2 separate regions of the Homo sapiens genome follow, and region 2 is linked to region 1. The links come from fine-mapping of genetic effects on gene expression. Tissue or cell type: fibroblasts. Region 1 holds a variant in brackets; the other region holds the start of a gene. All regions are shown on one strand. Distances are from middle to middle.

Region 1 (5,381 bases):
AGGTTTTCAGCCTCCAAAAAAACAGAACATCTGTGTCACTAGCACGTACTCTTCATAGCTGCATTAATGGCAGGTGCCAGAAGAGGTAACATGTTAGGTTTGTTGGATGTTAAAGGAGGCAAAGAGAAGGAAATTATAACCCTCTTCTTCCTGGCTGAACCCATGGTGGTGGAGAGTCAAGCGAAAGCTTCCCCTGGCCCTCTGAAGATTCACTGAAAAATCAACTCCTAAAAGTCAGATTAACTGGAGAAAAGGCACACAAATTTATGTAATGTGTACACTGGGAAAACCACAGAGTGATTACCCACTCTACAACAGGGTGCAGAAGCTTATACACCATCCTAGCAAAACAGGTTATAGGGTTGGGGAGAAGAGGAATTCTGTTGAGGGAATTACTAGGGAGAATGAATGGATCAGAGATTAATTTGTATATTAATTTGTAAAAGGGTCTGTTCAGATGTGGTTACGCTCTCGGTCTTAGAAGGAGGCGAAAATAGAACTGTTTTCTTTGGTGGGTCTGGATCTTGGGCAGATAAAGGAACTTCAACTTCATCTTGTGCATGTAGAGAGGGATTGTGTGTATGTGTGTCGGGGGGGGCGGTTGGGGTGGTCAGAGAGACACTGAGGCTTCTTCAGCATGTCAAAGTGCCATATTTTGTAGATATTTGTCTTTGAACCCCAACAGTAGACACTACCAATGGCCCATGTAACATGCTTCCTGCTGAGGAAGGAAAGGCTCTCAGAAGCCTTTTGCAACACAGGAAACTCCAGGTCACCACTACTGCTATATTTGAGTAGGTCCTGGAGATTATTCTCTTAGAACTAGCCTGAGACCTCCTTTAAAACAAAGCATCTCGAGTATTAGCCACTACCTTTATCCTGCTCTACTTTTATTTTTCTCACAGTATTTATCACCTTTTAACTAATGTATAATTTACTTTGTTATTAGGTTTATTATTTTTTGACTGTCCCTCTAAAATATGAGCTCCACAAGGGCAGGATCATTGTCAGTTGTTTTTAATGATGTATGCCAAGCACCTGGAATAACGCCAGGCACACAGCTGGTGCTCAGGAAATATGTCTAATGAGTAAAAGAATGAATGAGTTTCTTCCTCCACCAGCATCAGAATCTCAAAGCTCAGACCAGGGCAAGGCTAATAAGGCATCTGGGGCATAAAATGTAAGGAAACACTTACTCTTAGGCCCCCCTGCACTAGCATGACCCCGAACATGACAGCCTCCTTGAATTCTGCACCCTAGGCACCTCACTGCCTCACCCTAATCTTAGCTTTTAGAATCCTCACTGTTAAGAACACATATTTCTCACCATACCTTGTACCTCCTGGATCACAATCACTAGGAGGAGAGAGCAGCCTGGGAATTCCATTTCTAATGAGCTTCTTTGTCAGTCTTACACAGAATTTTGTTGGAAAATCACTGATTTAAATTAAGCAGTTTTGCCAAGATGAATTTTCATTACATCATCTCTGGCCAGTTCCATCCTCATCTCATTCAAGGTCTTTCCCACCCTTTCTCCCTTAGCTTAGCTTTCCCCTCTTCTCCCTAACAAAGTTATAACAGCAGCTAACAGTGTTTTCTAAGCCCCAGACACTGTTGTAAGCACCTTACCATTTATAACACACCTAATCCTCATACATCATGCCACAGGTACTATCAGTATTCGTGTTTACATATGAGGAAACTGTGGCAGAGAAAGGTTAAGGAATTCACCCAAGGTCACACAGCTAGTAAGGTCAGACTCAAGATTCAAATCCAGAAGCCTCTAGAGGGCTAGAGACTATATGTCTATTCAGAATGCTTTTAACATTCTAGCCAAAAGAAAACTGTTTTCCTGCACATCCTAGATCCTCTCAAATGGCTTGCCTTTGTTCAGCAATTCTCTTTACTGAGAAAGCCTTTTTGGTCCCTCCTCCATCAAAAAACCTGCTATTAAAATCATATCCATTTCCCATTATCCTATTGAAATCATATTCATTCCCCATTATCCAAGCAGAACTCCATGCCCTCCATGAAGCCATCTTCAGTCACCCTAGAATGAAGGATCTTTTTCCTCTCTGCTGTGGTCATTTAACTTGGTTTATGATTATCTCTATTATCCTGTTTATACTGGGTTTTGTTGTAGAACTAATCTAGTAAGATTAAATATTTTGAAATACTCACCCTTTTACCCATTGCCCCTTTCCCTCATTAAAGTACTGACGATGCCCTTCTATGTTCATTGCTTCTAGAGGGTAGAAAAAAAACATGAAAAGAAAAAAAGAGGTACATTCTTGACTTTTGAGT[T/C]TCCAAAACTTAGTACATTCTCCTAGGAGAGAACAAATATTACTCATGAGTAAAGGCCATTGACTTGGGAAAACTTTGGATGAGTAAAAGGCAGAGCTATCTGGCTGACTCCCATACTTCACATAGCAAATTGGATAAAAATTCCTTATTGGGAGGAAAAGTAAAGGGGAGGCAAGGAGTGAACAGAGATTTCAGGGTCTTGAAGAAAAGGGAGCCTTAAAACAAGTTCAGATGTGACAAGTTCAGATTAGCTTGGAGACACAGGACAGCAGAGAATATCAATTCCAGGCTAGAGCCCAAGAAAGCAGCATAACTCCAGGAAAAACTCATAGTTGCATATAGTCGTGTATGTAAGCAGAGAGAGCATTAAGCAGCTAAGCAGAGAATGCCTCAGGAGCAATACAATCACCTATTTGCCCAAAAGTAGCATAAAACCAGATAAAGTCTTAGGAGTGCCATAGATGCTTTCTTTAGCTAATATTTGAGGAGGAGAATGATCTCATGTGTCCTAAAGTGGTTTTAGAAGATATGAGAGAAAGCTGTACTTGAACGGTAGGGATGAAGGATGATTTGGCGGTATCTTCAAAGGACAACAGACCATATGGCAACAACAGTATCATAGCAGATATCAACATAGATTACAACCAGTCCATCTTCACCCCCAACTACCCACCAGTCACAACCTCAATATGTTAGAACTCAATATAGAAGTCACCCCATGTTTATATTAATATGTTACCTTCACTTTGCACCAGAATGTTTCTCTTGATTATAATCCACTCCTTAGTTCAGGTCCTGGTATAAGAGGGGTTCAACAGGTTTTTGTAAATTAATAAATTAGAGGAAATCTCACAAAGTTGGAAATAGGTATTTTTTTTTTTGCCAGGAAAGTCTTCTAATGACACTAGTAAACATTAAAGTGGCCAATTAGAATAATTTAATACAGGATGCTTCTACCATATTTCGTTATTCCGATCACAGATCTTTGGTGCAGATCAAAAGTACCCCAAGTCCTGAAGAGTTCTGAAACAGAGCAATTATGAACACAGTAAAGAAAGCATATGGGAGACATGGCCCTCTCTCTCTCTCTCTCTCTCTCTCTCTCTCTCTCTATATATATATATATATACACACACACATATATATGGCCATATTTATAAGTTTGTAAAAATCACAGCCCACTGTTTTTAAAAGTCTCACAACAGAAGTGACATTTGTTGAGGTCCCACAGGGGAGGGTTTTTGTGAAAAGTGTTAAAAATAAATCACGCTGTTTCTGGCAAGGTTTCCTTGGGGAAAGTCAGATGCCAGATTATCCTTAACTTCAAGTTAATTTGTACATATCAGACAACTAACTGTAGTCTTTCATTTCTTATCAAGGGAAAAAGATGTTAATCAATTCATAGTTGAAAAAAGGAGGGGGATACAGAGGATTAAAAAAATTAAAAGAGGCCAGGCGCGGTGGCTCACATCTGTAATCCCAGCACTTTGGGAGGCCAAGGCGGGCGGATCACAAGGTCAGGAGATCGAGACCATCCTGGCTAACGTGGTGAAACCCCGTCTCTGCTAAAAATACAAAAAATTTGCCGGGCATGGTGGCGGGCGCCTGTAGTCCCAGCTACTCGGGAGGCTGAGACAGGAGAATGGTGTGAACCCGGGAGGCGGAGCTTACAGTGAGCCGAGATTGTGCCACTGCACTCCAGCCTGGGCAACAGAGCAAGACTCTGTCTCAAAAAAAAAAAAAAAAAAAAGAAAATTAAAGGAAGGAGAAACGCATGCAGTATAACAAAGCCAGTCATTTTACTGCCTGACCATCACCACTGAAGGAACATTTAGAACCAAAACACAAACATTTCAATTATTTTTAGAATTCAAATAACTCAGAGACTGACTTAAAAGGAAAGAAATGTAAAAAGTGAGCATCCATAAGGAATCATTGTTCCTTGAATGGTGTTTTGAAGGCTCATAATGGGGCACAGGAATATTGCATATTGGAATAGTCACCTTAAACCCAGTCTACTTTGTGAGATTATTGTTTTTATAATTTGCTGCTCCAGATAAATAATATACAAGACCCAATCTCAGCTTCAGGGCAACAGCAGGCAGCACTGGGTTATTTAGTTATATTTGATATAACTGGCTCCTCTTGGGCTGGTGGTCCTCACTATTTCACCTGTGCCCTTATCTTGGCATGGTCCTTGTCTTCTGCTGAGAGGCAAAATGAATGAACTCTTGCTCCATCAAACTAGCAGAGCAGGAGGGAATAAGGAGGTGGTGGTAGGGTGACCTTTGGAACCACTGATATTCTTTATGTTTGTATTAAATCAATTGTATTGAATCAATTGTGCCTCATTAAGAAATACACTCCTTACTTTAGGTGTTTTAAGAAGTCTCATAAATATAAGACAGGACAAGGAAGAAGCAATCAATAAACATATGAGGGCATATTGCAATATCAGGAGTTTGAGAGGGCACAGATTGGGGTAGCATCTTATTTAAATTATTTTTTAAAATATTTTATCCAAGTACTATTTGCATATATTTAACAATCCAAAAGCTAATAAAAAGGCTTACAATGAAAAAAAAAAAAAACTGGCTGCTTGTCAGCCTTCCTCATATCCCCACTTCACAGGATAACATTTTCAGTTCTTTTAGTTGTGGCTTCTAGGACAGATGGTCACCATCTTATGATGGTTCAACAGGATTTTTTGACTTTCTAATGGTGTGAAAGCGTTAGGCATTCAGCAGAAACCGTACTTCCAGTACCCATACTATCATGTTTTTCACTTTCAGTATAGTATTCAATGAATTATTTGAGATATTCAACACTTTATTATAAAACAGGCTTTACGTTAGATGATTTTGGCCCATCTGTAGACTACTGTAAGTGTTCTGAGGATGTTTACAGTAGGCTAGGCTAAACTATGATGTTTGGTAGGTTAGGAATATTAAATACATTTCAACTTACAATATTTTCAGCTGATGATGTGTTTGTCAAAATGTAACCCTACTGAAAGCTGAGGTACATCTGTATTTGCTGTTGTGTTTCCAATTAACATGATTATATTACTGCTCTTG
Region 2 (5,338 bases), 140 kb before region 1:
TTTTTGGTATTTTTAGTATAGATGGGATTTCACCGTGTTAGCCAGGATGGTCTCCATCTCCTGACCTCGTGATCCACCTGCCTCGGCCTCCCAAAGTGCTGGGATTACAGGCGTGAGCCACCGTGCCTGGCCTGCAGATTTTTTAAAATAAAAAAGTAAAATTAAAGAAATGTCTTCATCAGGATAAGGCATATATAACACTTTGTTCTCTTTTTCAAAAGTTTATGTTAATAATAAAATGACCATGAGCAGGGCCTTGAACAAGCTTCGCTCCCGGGAATTACTCACCATCTCCACCTGGTCCCTTCACTCAACACTCCCGGCAGTAATGTCTCTGCAAGGAACAAATATGGGTTAAAAATAAGGTCTGAAGAGCCTGCCCCCTCCTTGCCTAGGAAATCTGAACCCTCAGGCAATGCCATTCTTACAAAATGTGCTTTCTGATTACTTCCAGAAGGCAGGGCAGGCTGACCATGCAGTCTCCTGTGGTGAAGTGGCTAAAACAATTCTCTTCACCAAGGCCACTGAGTATCTGCACACCTCCAGTCCAACAAATCAGTGCCTGGTGGCTTTGGCTATTTCTAATACATGTGTTTCATTCCTGTGCCAAGGGCTCCTCCCTCCACCCTCACTGCCCAGTTTGTGTTGTGGCCATTCCTCTCCCTTCACTGCCTCCACCTCTGTCCTGGATTTCTTCCTCTGTATCCTTCCCCCTTCCGCTGCTTACTTTTTCTCTTCAGATGTCAAGAGAGCTTGACTTCTCCCTACTTTACTTCTAAAAAAGAGAGAAACTATAGAGTTTCTACCAAGTTTCAAGCACTGCTCTTTATAATCCTGCAACCTGGAGTTGCTATTTCACGCCTCTTCTGCTCAATGCTTGACGCACGCTAAATATAGAGGAGTATGACACCCGAGCTCATGGAAGGCTCCCTTTTTCATTGGCAGTGGGCTTGACTACGGTTCATGCCAGTTCCTAATCTGTCTTGGCATTTTTCTCACTCATTAGGCACTTTAGAGAAAAAAATAAGGTCACAGTCCATCCTGACTTCTAACTACACCCCCTTCCTTTCCTCAAGCCCTGCAGTCCCCAAACCCTCCCCACACCACCCCAACACGAAGATGAAACTAATAAAGAAAATGTTCATGAACCATCTCTTAAAGATATCCTGCTGCCAGTCCTGTCCCAGGTCCCTCCTCCAAGTACAACACTTGGAAGAAAAAAGAAAATCGCTGGCTGAAAATCCTGACCTTCTACCAACAGGACAGAATGTGTGCCTTCTCATTCTAGGTCTTATGCAGAGGAAGCAATGAGAAATGCTGGCTCTCCACTTTTCTTTCAGCATTAACTTCAGGCTCTTCTATTAGCTACTTGTTTAAAGATTGTAGGACACAAGTAAATGCACACCTGTTGTCACAGAGATCCACCCTAAGAGGTCTAGTCACTCTTCAGCTACTCAAGAAGTATCCAAGATTCCATTCATTCATCCATCTCCCCAACCAGACTTTTGGCCAAGCCCCGTTCGGAAAAAACCAATGTTGTCACAGATTGCTGTGCTAGTAATTGTAAAGCAGTTGTAAGGTTTAGCTCGGCTTTGGGCTGAACCAGTCTCTCAAATGCAATGACATTGTACTGTGTGTTTTCTAAATGCTGTACATAAAACAAGGTATAGCTTTCCTATGAGAGGAAAAAATCTATACTGCAATAGAGTTGATAAAGAAGAACCAAAACTGAAGAGGAACACTAAGATCCCTGTTGTGCTGAAAATTTTTAAAACTTTGATTTTTATAAAAAGCTCTTTTGCAGTAAGGTGTAAAATAAAACCAAGAGATCAATGAAATAAAATTCACACCATCATGTCTCTGTCCTTTAAGAAGAATTTTGAGTAAACTGCCATTTTCTGTTACTTTTTTATTATCTATGTTTCCTAAAATACAGAAGTGTTTTTTGAGAGTAAAACTGCAAATTACTTCAAGTGAGAAAATTGGAAATGATTATAGAAACAGAATTACAAATGTTGATCCAGCATAATTCTAGGCAAATATATCACTGACAGTCAAATCCCAGATAATGACAGTCAAACTCCTATATAAAAGATTTTAGAAACCCATACACACATATCTGTTTCGACACTCTGAAAGTGTCATCCAACGTAGAAACTTCAAACTCTGATTCCCTCCTAAAATGAGAGCCATTTTCTACTATTAAAAAACAACAACAACAAAAAACTCCCCATTAAAACTCTTGCGAAGTGAAGCAAAACACACAGACAGTTTCATCTGAAATTATCTTCCTTGCCAGTGAACGGCCCTTCCACGCAGAAAGGAAAAGTTACAGATGGTTGGAGCAGGGTGACAACATAAGGAATTCACATACTCCTCTTTACACAATAACGTTGCCAGCTAAATCCTAACTTTCAAAAGAAGTCTCTCTGCCCTGCTGAAAATCAGACCTTAAAGGGGGAAAAGCACAGATTGGAGCCCCATGCCAACTGTTTACATGACGGAGTTCTAACTTGCTAATTCACACACACACACATGCACACACTAAAAACTCGGAGTGCCTGCAAATACAGCAGGCAGATAGCTTAGAAAGTGAACAGACGCGTGCAAACGCAAGAACTGAACAGTACCCTACCTCTCTTGTCCGTTTCACAAACCGGCCGATGAAAACCGCCCGCGATCCCAGGGCGTGCTGAGCAGCTCTGAAGGAGGTGGCCACTCGGCCCGCTGAGTGTGTGCAGGCCCAGCCTGCGCTCAGAAGCTGCCCCAGTCAGATTTTCCAACTGCAGAACTGCAGCCAAGTCCCTGCCCATGCCTGAAGAATTTCCTGAACAGCATTCCCGTTCTTTTTCTGACTGCTTTGAAACCGTACTCCGTACTTCAATATGGCTTTGTCAGACCGACTCACAGCTACTGGGCTGTCTCCAGCTATCAATGGGAAACACATGTGTCAAGCACAGGCCGACTCCCCTGCAACAGCGCTCATGGTGTCTGCCGGGCTCATACTCACAACCAGAAAGAAAACTGCTTCTACAACCAATTCTGATTTTTCAGCCATTCTCCACACAGCCTCTGCTCTGTAGTGCTAGATGCTGGAGATAAGTCCTCTCTTTCTTCTGCTCAACACTGCTCCTTTTTCACTTGCTCCTTACACTTGAGTCCCCAGCTGACCCCTGTCAGCCCCCTGAGCTCTTGCCAGTCCTGATAACAAGCTTATTACAGCTGAGAGATGTAAATTCTAATTTGATCTCCCTACCTGCCGCTTCCTAAATCTTTGCTCAAAATTTCAATTGCTTGAGGGGGAGCAATATTTTTAGCATTTCCACACTGGTACAGTTCTTCGGAGCTGTCCCCTCAACCTGATATGTACATTTTTTGCTGCAGCAACTAAAAATAATGCAATTATTTTTCAGGCACTTTTGTTGCTCTCTGTTCTGCAACAGTGCTGGTCCAAAAATGTAACATTTTATAGGCTGTTGGAATGTGTGTTATGGTTATGGAAAATAGAAAAGAGAAAAGAATGTACTTTGAATCAGAATGCGTCCTAATTCTGTGCACCTGTGATTATTTCTGGATGACACTCCCTCAAGATGCCCTGTGTACATTCTGCTGGATTTGATGCTCTACCTTTGACATTTTCCCTTTCCATGCAACAAGAGGAAACCTCAAAACAGGAGGACACCCCTCTTCTCCCACACTGAAAAACCCCCATATCTAAAGAGCCAGAGCAAAGTTGTCAAGGTAACATTGTAGAAAAGAGGTGATTTAAAGAGAGAGGAGCATTTGTTTTGAACTGTTTCTTTTTTCTGTTTTTGGTATTAACATTTTACTTCCAAAAATCACACCCCATTGGCAACTTATTCTAAAGAACTGGCTTGCCAGATTTTAAGTGTTGTATGTTCTTGAGGGGATGTTGTAAGTAATAGGATTCGGTGGGGTCGTGAGTTTAGCATCAAATTACACTGGGCACTTTGAGCAGGATTAGATTTTCGCCTTGGGAAGCAGTGGGGTGGGAGGCGGTGTGGGGAGGTGTGTGTGCACATCTAAGGTCAAGATGCAATTACAGAATCAGATCTTTGGAGTTGGAGACACCCCAGAGATCATCCAATCCAAATTGTTTCCACCCTTCATTTTACAGAGGGAAGTAGAGGCCCAGACAAATGAGATGACTTGTCCAGGGTTTTAAAGACAGTTAATACCAGAGCTGAAGCTAGAAATGGGATTGGTGCTCTCTTTTTCTATCTGCTTTCTCTACTGCAGCATAATTTGGGAAGGTGATATCATCTAGCCTTCTAATCAGATAGCCTGGGTCTAATCTTAGCTCTGCATCTTACTGACTATAAACCCTGGTCAGCTTGCTTAACCTCTCTCGATCTGTTTCCTCATCTGTGAAATGGGAACCATAATAGAATCTACTGGTAGAATTGTTAAGGATTCAGTGAGATAATCTGTGTAAAGTGTTTATGACTGCCTATAAATACATTTCAGTTTACTTTTTTTTTTAATGGAGCAAAATGCAAACCTTTTCTCTAACCTAAAAGCCAAATTGTACTCTCCCATCTAGTGTGAGTTCTAGAATAAAGTATTTGAGTGGCTAGTTTTCTGCTGCTTTAACTTTATGTAATAGGGGCCTGTCACCTTAAACTTGGAGAACTGTCCTGAAGCCTTATTGGAACATTAAGCCAGCTATACCGCTACTTTCCATTTATTCCCTAAATATAACACTGAAGTCTTTCCTTGAGATTAACTCACAGAAAAGAAAAACAGTGAGATCAAATCTGCAGTCAGTTACATGAGGCTGAACAAAGTGTCATTCCAGAGAACTGGGCTTTATACCTTAAGAGCTCAAAATTATCATTCTATAAATAGAAGACTATTAACAATTACAATGTTCATGTTTGGAAATGGCAACGTCCTAAATTAACAATAATAGCAAAATAAAATCCCACAAGTTGAGGAAGAAATCTTTCAGAGAAAATAGCTGCTGCAAATTCTAAAGAATCAGACTTCTACGTGGGGTTCCACAGTCTTTGAGAGCCAGTGGTAGCAAATTGCTAATGAACCGCTTATTGTTTATTATTCACGTTTTATGCCCTGCTTCTTTTCAGGGAAAAAAAAAAAGAAGTTTTAAATAGTTGAAGAAGTTAATCTTGAATGTTCTGGTAATCAATTTAAAAAAAACTCAAGCTGATACTCAGCCCTAATCAAACAATGCTGATATGATTCACGAGACCCTGCCCTCATGTCTCCCCAAAGACTTGTTATGTGGCTCATTTCAATGTGGGCATCTGGAGAGATCTCAGTTTGAGACCCAGCTTTATAACTGCTAGCTAGAAAA

Alleles and levels. Alleles are on the strand shown, and positions count from the first base shown. SD is a standard deviation of normalised expression in the study named.
In carriers of allele T in region 1, the expression in fibroblasts of the gene that starts at base 2,704 in region 2 tends to be lower than with C alone (small effect, 0.28 SD a copy in GTEx).

What was found.
Region 2: SGCD starts here. The variant in region 1 is fine-mapped to the expression of SGCD in fibroblasts (GTEx, PIP above 0.99).

Annotation. Positions count from the first base shown.
Region 1 is chr5:156,183,886-156,189,266 of GRCh38, reverse strand. It overlaps a transcript of SGCD not described here. Among named protein-coding and RNA genes, the nearest start is that of SGCD, 140 kb to the left of the region's middle. The variant T/C (reference allele first, on the strand shown) is at 2,305.
Region 2 is chr5:156,324,530-156,329,867 of GRCh38, reverse strand. It overlaps SGCD (sarcoglycan delta), which reads right to left and starts at 2,704. Exons shown (of 9, transcript NM_000337.6): 1 at 2,636-2,704; 2 at 289-334. The coding sequence starts at 291. The region is part of intron 2 of LOC124901120 (a long non-coding RNA gene); the gene reads left to right.